Regions from separate parts of the Homo sapiens genome. Here all the other regions are linked to region 3. The links come from fine-mapping of genetic effects on gene expression. A gene starts in region 3. Each other region holds a variant in brackets. All regions are shown on one strand. Distances are between the middles of the regions.

What was found.
Region 1: its variant is fine-mapped to the expression of PGPEP1 in whole blood (INTERVAL, PIP above 0.99).
Region 2: its variant is fine-mapped to the expression of PGPEP1 in whole blood (TOPMed, PIP above 0.99).

What each region holds. Positions count from the first base shown.
Region 1 is chr19:18,367,739-18,370,238 of GRCh38, reverse strand. PGPEP1 (pyroglutamyl-peptidase I) reads right to left here. Exons shown (of 5, transcript NM_017712.4): 5 at 289-2,500. Among named protein-coding and RNA genes, the nearest start is that of GDF15, 17 kb to the left of the region's middle. The variant A/G (reference allele first, on the strand shown) is at 1,402.
Region 2 is chr19:18,307,965-18,310,616 of GRCh38, reverse strand. LSM4 (LSM4 homolog, U6 small nuclear RNA and mRNA degradation associated) reads left to right here. Exons shown (of 5, transcript NM_012321.5): 4 at 756-939. Among named protein-coding and RNA genes, the nearest start is that of LSM4, 14 kb to the left of the region's middle. The variant C/A (reference allele first, on the strand shown) is at 1,389.
Region 3 is chr19:18,338,990-18,341,802 of GRCh38, reverse strand. It overlaps PGPEP1 (pyroglutamyl-peptidase I), which reads right to left and starts at 1,205. Exons shown (of 5, transcript NM_017712.4): 1 at 1,088-1,205. The coding sequence starts at 1,121. RefSeq lists an enhancer at 648-1,335 and a silencer at 1,167-1,356.

The sequences.
Region 1 (2,500 bases), 29 kb before region 3:
ATGTTGGCCAGGCTGGTCTGGAACTCCTGACCTGAGGTGATTCACCCACCTCGGCCTCCCAAAGTGCTGGGATTCCGGGTGTGAGCCACTGCGCTGGGCCAGGCCTCTGATTTTGAGGAAGGAGACCACTGGAGGCAGAATTCCCCTCCTCTCGCTCACTCAGCACATGGTCACCAGCTGCCCTGGGCCCAGCACCACCGAGAATAGAAACCCAGTGACACGGGGTCCCCTCTATCCCCGGGCACCCAGCTGAACTCCAGCCCCACAAAAGGACACACAGGAAATGTATGCGTATTTCAAGTGTTTTATTTGCTTTCTGTGGTGTCAAATTTGGGGTCTCCTAGAGCCCAGCCCCAGGCAGAATCCGGCATATCCTTCTCCGCCTGGGGGGCCCGGGACACAGGAGTTTCAGAAAAGGCACTGGCAAAAGTTCTAGGGCGGGGGTCAGGGAGAAGCCACACTGAGCCTGGAGGGACCGGGCCCTCCTTCGGCGGCAGAAAACACAGTCACCTTTGGCAGGGAAGGGTTTTTTCCTAGAAAGAAATTTAAGACAAGATAAAAACCTGAGATGTTAGAGGAGCCCCCAGAACCAAGCCGGTGCTCCCCTGGGCAGGCAGAGAGTGAACTCGGCTTCCAAAGGCTCAGGGGAGGCTTGCCCGGCCCTCAGCCAGGCTCAGATGCCACAGGCCTTGGCAAGCAGAAAGCCTAATTCAAATCCCTATGTGGAATCTCCTTGAGACAAAGTGTCACGACACAAAACCCCCAGGCCCCAGACCCCACCTCTGAATGGCTTGGGCCAGACGCTGGTCTGGATCGTCAGGAGCCACGGCCACTACCCAGTGACCAATTCCTGTCCCTTTTTGTGTGTTCTGTGAGCGCTGGAGAGGCAGGCACTTCTGTGGGTAACTGGGGGAGGCACAGCGGGGAGAAAGAGCAGGAGGAGAAAGGGAATTTGGGGGAGGGGGAGCAGTTTGGGGTGGGACTGGGTCCCTCAAGTCCTGGGAGTCCCCCCCCACTCAGCTTGTGACAACTGTCCTGGAAACCAGGGGACAGAGTCTCTCAGCAGGTATGTTCAGCGTCCACCCGGGAATTAGCTTTCCAGACGTGGGCACTGGGCAGCGCCTGCCCCTCAACAGCCATTCTGCCAAGGGTCTAAGTGGAACCCCAGCCCTCGGCCGGCCTCCTCACTGCAAAAACGGGGATGCTTTCCCTCCCAACCAGCAGCCCCGGGCCCTCATGAGGCACTTGTGCCCAGGGAAGGGAAATTTAATCCGGATTATAAAAACAAAGCCCTCTCCTGCCCCCTCAAGTTAGGATGCTGAGGATGGGTGGCTGCATGGGGCAACCTGGCAAAGACCTGCCTCCTTGACCATGATCAGCACCCCATGCTGGCCGTCACGC[A/G]GCTCCCAGAGGCCTCAGGATAGAGGCTGGGGCTGCGGAGAATAGGGCTTTGTCCAGCTGTCTCCAAAAGGGACGTCTAGGTTCAGACGCCACAAGAGGCAGAGAGGTCAAAGGCCAACAGTCTAGACAGTGGCAGCCAAAAGGGGGCCAGCTGTGCGGGACAGATTTCCATGAGCCATCCCCCTCCACCTGGTCACCTCCCCAGGGCACTGGAGTGCAGGTGTAAACATACCAGCTGGTCTTGCTTCCTGGAAGAAACTTCCAAGACTAAAAGGCATCTTGAATCTACTTTTCCAGCTCTCCCATCTGCCCCAGAGTGGATACTTTCTGTTCTAGATGTTTCTATGCCAGCAACGAGCAGAAAAGCAGAGCAGGGAATTCTTTTTTTTTTTTTTTTTTGTGACAGAGTCTTGCTATGTTGCCCAGTCTGGAATGCAGTGGCGTGATCTCACACCACTGCAACCTCTGCCTCCCAGGTTCAAGCAATTCTCCTGTCTCAGCCTCCCAGGTAGCTGGGATTACAGGCACGCACCATCCACTCTTGACTAATTTTTGTATTTTTAGTAGAGATGGGGTTTTGCTATGTTGGCCAGGCTGGTCGCAAACTCCTGGCCTCAAGCGATCAGTCTGCCTTGGCCTCCCAAAGTGCTGGGATAACAGGCATAAGCCACTGCGCCTGGCCCCCCTTTTTTTTTTCTTAATTTTGAGGCAGGGTCTTGCTCTGTTGCCCAGGCTGGGGTACAGTAGTGTAATCATGGCTCATTGCAGCCTTCACCTCCTGGGCTCAGATAAGCCTCCCAACTCAGCCTCCCAAGTAGCTGGGACTACAGGTGCTTGACACCACAACTGGCTAATTTTTTTTTTTAATTTCTGTAGAGATGGGGTCTCGCCATGTTGCCCAGGGCTGGTCTCGAACTCCCGGGCTCAAGCAATCCTCCCACCTCAGCCTCCCAAAGCACTGGGATCACAGACATGAACCATCTCCAGGATTCCCCTCCTTGCCGAGAAACTACTGCCATCTGGGACATTTCCTTCACACATCTGGCTCTGATGGGGAAGCTGTGATTTCGGCCCCCACCCCCTGTCCCTGCCCAGCCCT
Region 2 (2,652 bases), 31 kb after region 3:
GGAATGGCCCTGGCCCCTGCTAATCCCTCGATCTGTCCCAGTGGGGGCCTCGGAGGCATTGCAGCATGAGTCTGTGTCTTTGCAAGGCCCCCATTTCTCCAGTCTTGGTTAGCTCTCCTAAAACTGGCATCGCTGGGAGCCGCCCTTGAGCCACCCTGGCAGGACCCAAGTCCCCCCATTTCCCGCCCCTCTTCACCCACCACACTAGGCCTGTAGCTTGCTCGCATGTCCCTGCACCCAGCGCAGGCCCTGTCAGGAGATACTTAGATGAATGAATGAGTCAGGGCATGTAGAGAGGCTTCCAGAAGTGAGGTGGGGCTGGGGCAGGAGGAGGAGTAGCTGGGCTTCGGCTGTGTCTGGTGCACAGGGAGGCCCCCACCCGCTCTGGGCTTTGGGCTGCAGGTGAAGAACCCCAACCAGAGAGAGCCCCATCCCAGGCTGGAGGGAGCCCCAGTCAGCCACTCCTGAGCCAGGCCCACGGGCAGAGGATAGGAGCCAGTCTTCCTTGTGAGTGCACAATGGGGGCTGCGCCTACCACACCCACCCTTGCTCCTGGGTGAAGGATTGCCTGGGGTCAGGACAGATCCTGCCTGCAGGGTGGACCCTTTGCCACGTATGTCCCGGGACTGATACTGTGCAGCTTGCAGGGGTGGTACGGGGTGCAGGCTGGGCAGGATCTGCAGGGCCTCCCGCGCTCCCAGGGCTGGGCCAGACGGCCCGGTGGTAAGTTAATAACCTGCTCCCCTTCTCCGCAGGACGGGGACAAGTTCTGGCGGATGCCCGAGTGCTACATCCGCGGCAGCACCATCAAGTACCTGCGCATCCCCGACGAGATCATCGACATGGTCAAGGAGGAGGTGGTGGCCAAGGGCCGCGGCCGCGGAGGCCTGCAGCAGCAGAAGCAGCAGAAAGGCCGCGGCATGGGCGGCGCTGGCCGAGGTGGGTCTCCCCTCTCCAGTGGACGTACCTGGGGCGGGAAGACAGCCACACGTGGCATCCCTCCTTCTTGGGGTTGCCCTTGCAGCGCTGCCTCGGAGCCTCCCAACCCTCCCGGGCCCCCCTCCTGGTCCTTGGCCATGAGCCGAGGCCCAGGCAGAGGAGCCCCGAGACCTGGGACTCAGCCCTCCTCTCACTGCGCCTCCTGGCGGTCCTCAGGGCACATCAAGTCACCTCCCCAAGCCTCAGTTTCCCCTCTGAGAGGGTATGGTGGTGCCCATCTGTCCAGGCCGCTGGCAACTCCACTTGGAACCTGGCGTGGCTCTATCCAGAGCCAAGGTCGCCCGCCCCCACCGGAGATGATGAATTGGCATAAAATTCCATTTGTTAGGCCCAGGGGCCATCTGTAGCCCCTGCCCTTCCTCACCTCTCTGTCCCCAGCTCTGTGTTCT[C/A]GGGGGGACCTGGGCTTTGCTTCTGCCATCCATGGGCACTGCCTGTGTGCTGGGCTCAGGTGCCAGCCTGGGGGCTTGCAGCACGGCATGGCTGCCCCCGGAAGGCCCCAGGCGCCAATTCTGTGCAGGCTCACGAGGTGGTCAGGAGTGAGCCCGAGGGAGGGGCAGGGATAGTACTCCAGGCAGGGAGCTTTGGGGATCTCAGGGTGGGTGGGGCCTCTGGGGTCCCCGGCCTGGCTCCTTCCCAGTAGTTGGGGTCAAGGTTGTTGAGAGAGTGGGTCGGGTCCTACCTAGGGAAGTGGGGGGTTTTCTCTGGCTGCTCTGCAGGAAGCCACTGGGCCATGGAGTGCAGATAGCAGCCTCGCAGTAACCCCCACCAGGCTGTGCACCCTAGCACAGCTGGTCCTGCCTGGTGAGAGGGGAGGTTGGTGGCCCAGGCCAGCGTTGGCCTCTGGCCTCTGTCCCCACAGGGCCTGGTGGCCCCTGGCTGGTGAGAGCCCTGACCTCTTAGATCCTCTGAATCTGGACCCCTGACCCCACCTTCACGGGGTTGAGGTCTGCAGAGTAGACCGTGATTCCAGTTCCTGTTGGGGTCAGTCCTCCTGTCCCCAGACCTCCCTGGCCCACGACTGAGCCTCCCAGCGGGCTCTGTGGAGGGCCTGAGCTATGCTGCCTGCAGCGCTGGCCTCTGGCCCCTGGCACCCAGCACATGGGCCACAGGGCCAGCTCCTCTTGCTGGCCTTGGCTCTCCTGCTGTTTGAAGCTCCAGCTTTGATTTCCTCAAGCGTTCGTCCAGCTAGAAAGTTCTCTGAAACGGCTCCCTAAACGGGGCTTACAGAGCTGGGGTCCCCAAGGGAGACAGAGAGGGAGGGATCAATGTTGGGTCCCGGCCTGACCAACCTGCTGCGTCCAGGCCTGGCCTGTGGTGAGGGTGGCGTGAAGGGGCGCCAGGCACACAGAGGGTGTGGGGACAGGCGTGCCCTGCGTGCAGCCTGCTCAGGATTACTGGAGGTGCCGCTGTAGCGTCCACTCAGTCCCTGGGGCCCTCATCTCCCGGGAACCCCCTGTCACCTCCCCAGTGGCCACATGCTCCCACCTCAGGGGCTTCATGGAAAATGTCATTTGTCCTCATGGTCTATCTCTGGCCTCAGGCCTGCTGGGGAGTCCCCTCCCCTTCCCCATCCCTGGGGCTGGATACACAGAAATCCCTCTTTCTGTTTTCCTCCTGGCAGGTAGATGAGGGGCTGTGGGTGGTTGTGGCGCA
Region 3 (2,813 bases):
ATCCTTCTGTACAGCCAAAGTTTGAGTCTCAGCTCAGCCCCTTACAAACTGGATGACCTCTGTGAGCCTCAGTTTCCCTTTCTGCAAAATGGAGACAGTAAAGATGTAATCAGCTCATGCAAAAAGTGCTGGAATAAATAACCAGATAAAGGAAGGCTGGAAGGGATGGGGGCAGTGACCCTCCTCCCAATTATACACACCTGTTAAGCAGGTGCCTTGTTTCTTCCTTCTTCCCTGAATCTCCTGGATCAGCCTCAATCTCCCTTCAACAGCCACAAAACACCTGTGTGCACCTTTGCTGGATTTCCCACTCTGACCCCTCCAGACAGCAGGTCAAAATGACCCCCCCACTCCTTGACTCTGAGGCCCCAGCGGAAGTTGGCGCCCCACGTGGCCCCGAGGCGGAGTCTCAGGGAGGAGAAACAGTTGGTTTGGGGGTGGGGGGGAGTCGGTGACAGCAGGGGCCCTGACTCACCAACAAACAGCCCTGGCACAAAACACAAAAAGGTTTCCGCTGAAGACAGTCCCTGGGACAGCTGGGAGAGCCCGAGGTCCCCGGACCCCCACCTGCCCCTGCCTTGGGAGAGTAGCCCCCCAGGAGCGCAGGGCGCGGCGAGCAGTGACTGGGAGGTTCATTTGTCACTGGGACACTTCCTGCCCGCAAATCGGCCTTTGTCCCCTGGGGCCAGGGGTTGGGGGAGCGGTGTGGGGACAGGCTGGACCTCGGAAGGGGCAGGGAGGAAGGGTCCAGTCCAGCCCGCAGGCCAGACAGAGGAGGCAGGTGCCAGGAGGGTCACCATCCCCACCTTGGGAGGAAAGGACGCCAGGGGGGCCTGCGCAGCGCCGGGCTTTTGCCCGGCCCCCCAAGCCCCGCGCCCGACTGCCCTGACTCCCGACCCTGGGACCCCCAAGGCTCCTCCTCCTCCACTTTCCAGGAAGCCTGGGCTGCGCGGGGCTCCCGCGGGTGATGACACCTTCCAAATCTGAGAGGACTTCCAGCACCTGCCCCTCTCGGCCCCGCAGTCCCGGAGCCGCCCCCGCCTCTGCCCCCGGCCGCTGCCGCTACAGCCCCCATCAGCCAGCGTACCCGTCACTACCACCGCCTTCCTCGGCTGCTCCATGGCGGGATCGGGCTGTGCCTCGGACCTGCTTCTGTTGCGACTGGCGCGACAGCTGCTGCCGCTGCAGCCTCTCGGCCGCGCGAGGCCACGCCCCTGTCAAGCCCCCGGCCTCGCCCCCGGTCAGCCGCTCGGCGTGCGCGCCCCCGGGCCCGAGACGCAGCGTGCGCGCCCTGCGCCCCGCCCCCGTCGGCTAGGCCCGGTATTCCCCAGCCTCCGTTTCCCCGTCTGCAAAATGGGAACATCTTATGCCGTAGTGTGTAGCCGCTTGCACGCACTGAGCCAGGTGCTGGGGATGAGCCGGTCCTTTATTCTGCAAGGGTTCATTGAGGGCCTGCCCTATGCATGCATACTGCGCAGAATTAGGGAGGGAAGTCCCCGCGAGCAAGGCCCGTTTTCCAGATAAGGAAACTGAGGCACAGAATGCCACTTCCCCGAGGTCACTCGCCTCAAGGGGTCACAGGAGCAGCATTCAGGCCAGGAAGTTGGCGGGGGTGGGGGAGGACAGAGTAAAAAAGGAAAAACACGACAACCATATTTGTGTGGTGCCAGAAGTTTCTCTGCAGGCCCCCATGGTCCTAGGAGGCTAATGGGGGAGGGCGATTGTACCTGCTGTTCCCTCTGCCGGAACACACCCCGCAGGTACCTGCGAAGCTGGCCTCCTTCAGGCCTCAGCTCCAGTGTTCCAATGTCGCCTCCTCCCAGGGGCCCTCCTCCTGTCCTGGCTGTCACCTCCTCCGAGGGGTGAACTGTCACTTTCTCCTTGTGGCCTTCTCTGGCTATCACCTCCCTGCTATCCTATTACCTCCTCTGAGGGTTCCTTCTGGCCCTCCTTGGCTGAAATGACCTCACTGCTACCCCCCAGTGGTTCCATCTCATTCCCTGGTTCCATCCTCTTCATAGCAATAAAGCTCAGAAATAATTTCCTTTCTCTCTCTTTTTTTTGGAGACAGGGTCTCACTCTGTTACCCAGGCTGGAGTGCAGTGGCAAAATCATAGCTCTGTAACTTTGACCTCCAGGGCTCAACTGATCCTCACATCTCAGCCTCCTGAGTAGCTGGGACTACAGGTGTGTGGCACCACACCCAGCTAATTTTTGTATTTTTGTAGAGATGGGGGTTTCATAGTGTTGCACAGGCTGGTCTCGAACTCCCGAGCTCAAGCAATCCGCACACCTTGGCCTCCCAAAAGTGCTGGGATTACAGGTGTAAACCAGCACACCTGGCCAGAAATCATTTTTAATTTTTTTTAGCTTTTAAGTTTTGGGGTACATGTGCAGGTTTGTTATATAGATAAACTCGTGTCATGGGGTTTGTTGTACAGATTATTTAGTCCCCCAGGTATTATTAAGCAGAAATTATATATGTATTTATTTATTTGAGACGTAGTTTCACTCTTGTCACCCAGGCTGGAGTGCAGTGGTGTGATCTTGGCTCACTGCAACCTCTGCCTCCCGGGTTCAAGCAATTCTCCCACCTCAGCCTCCCAAGTAGCTGGGATTACAGGCGAGTGCCGCCATACCCAGCTAATTTTGTATTTTTAGTAGAGAGGGAGGTTCACCATGTTGGCCAGGCTGGTCTCGAACTCCTGACTTCAGGTGATCCACCCTTTTCAGCTCCCAAAGTGCTGGGATTACAGGCGTGAACCACTGCCTCCGGCCCCCTCCCCAGGTATTATTAAGCAGAAATCATTTAG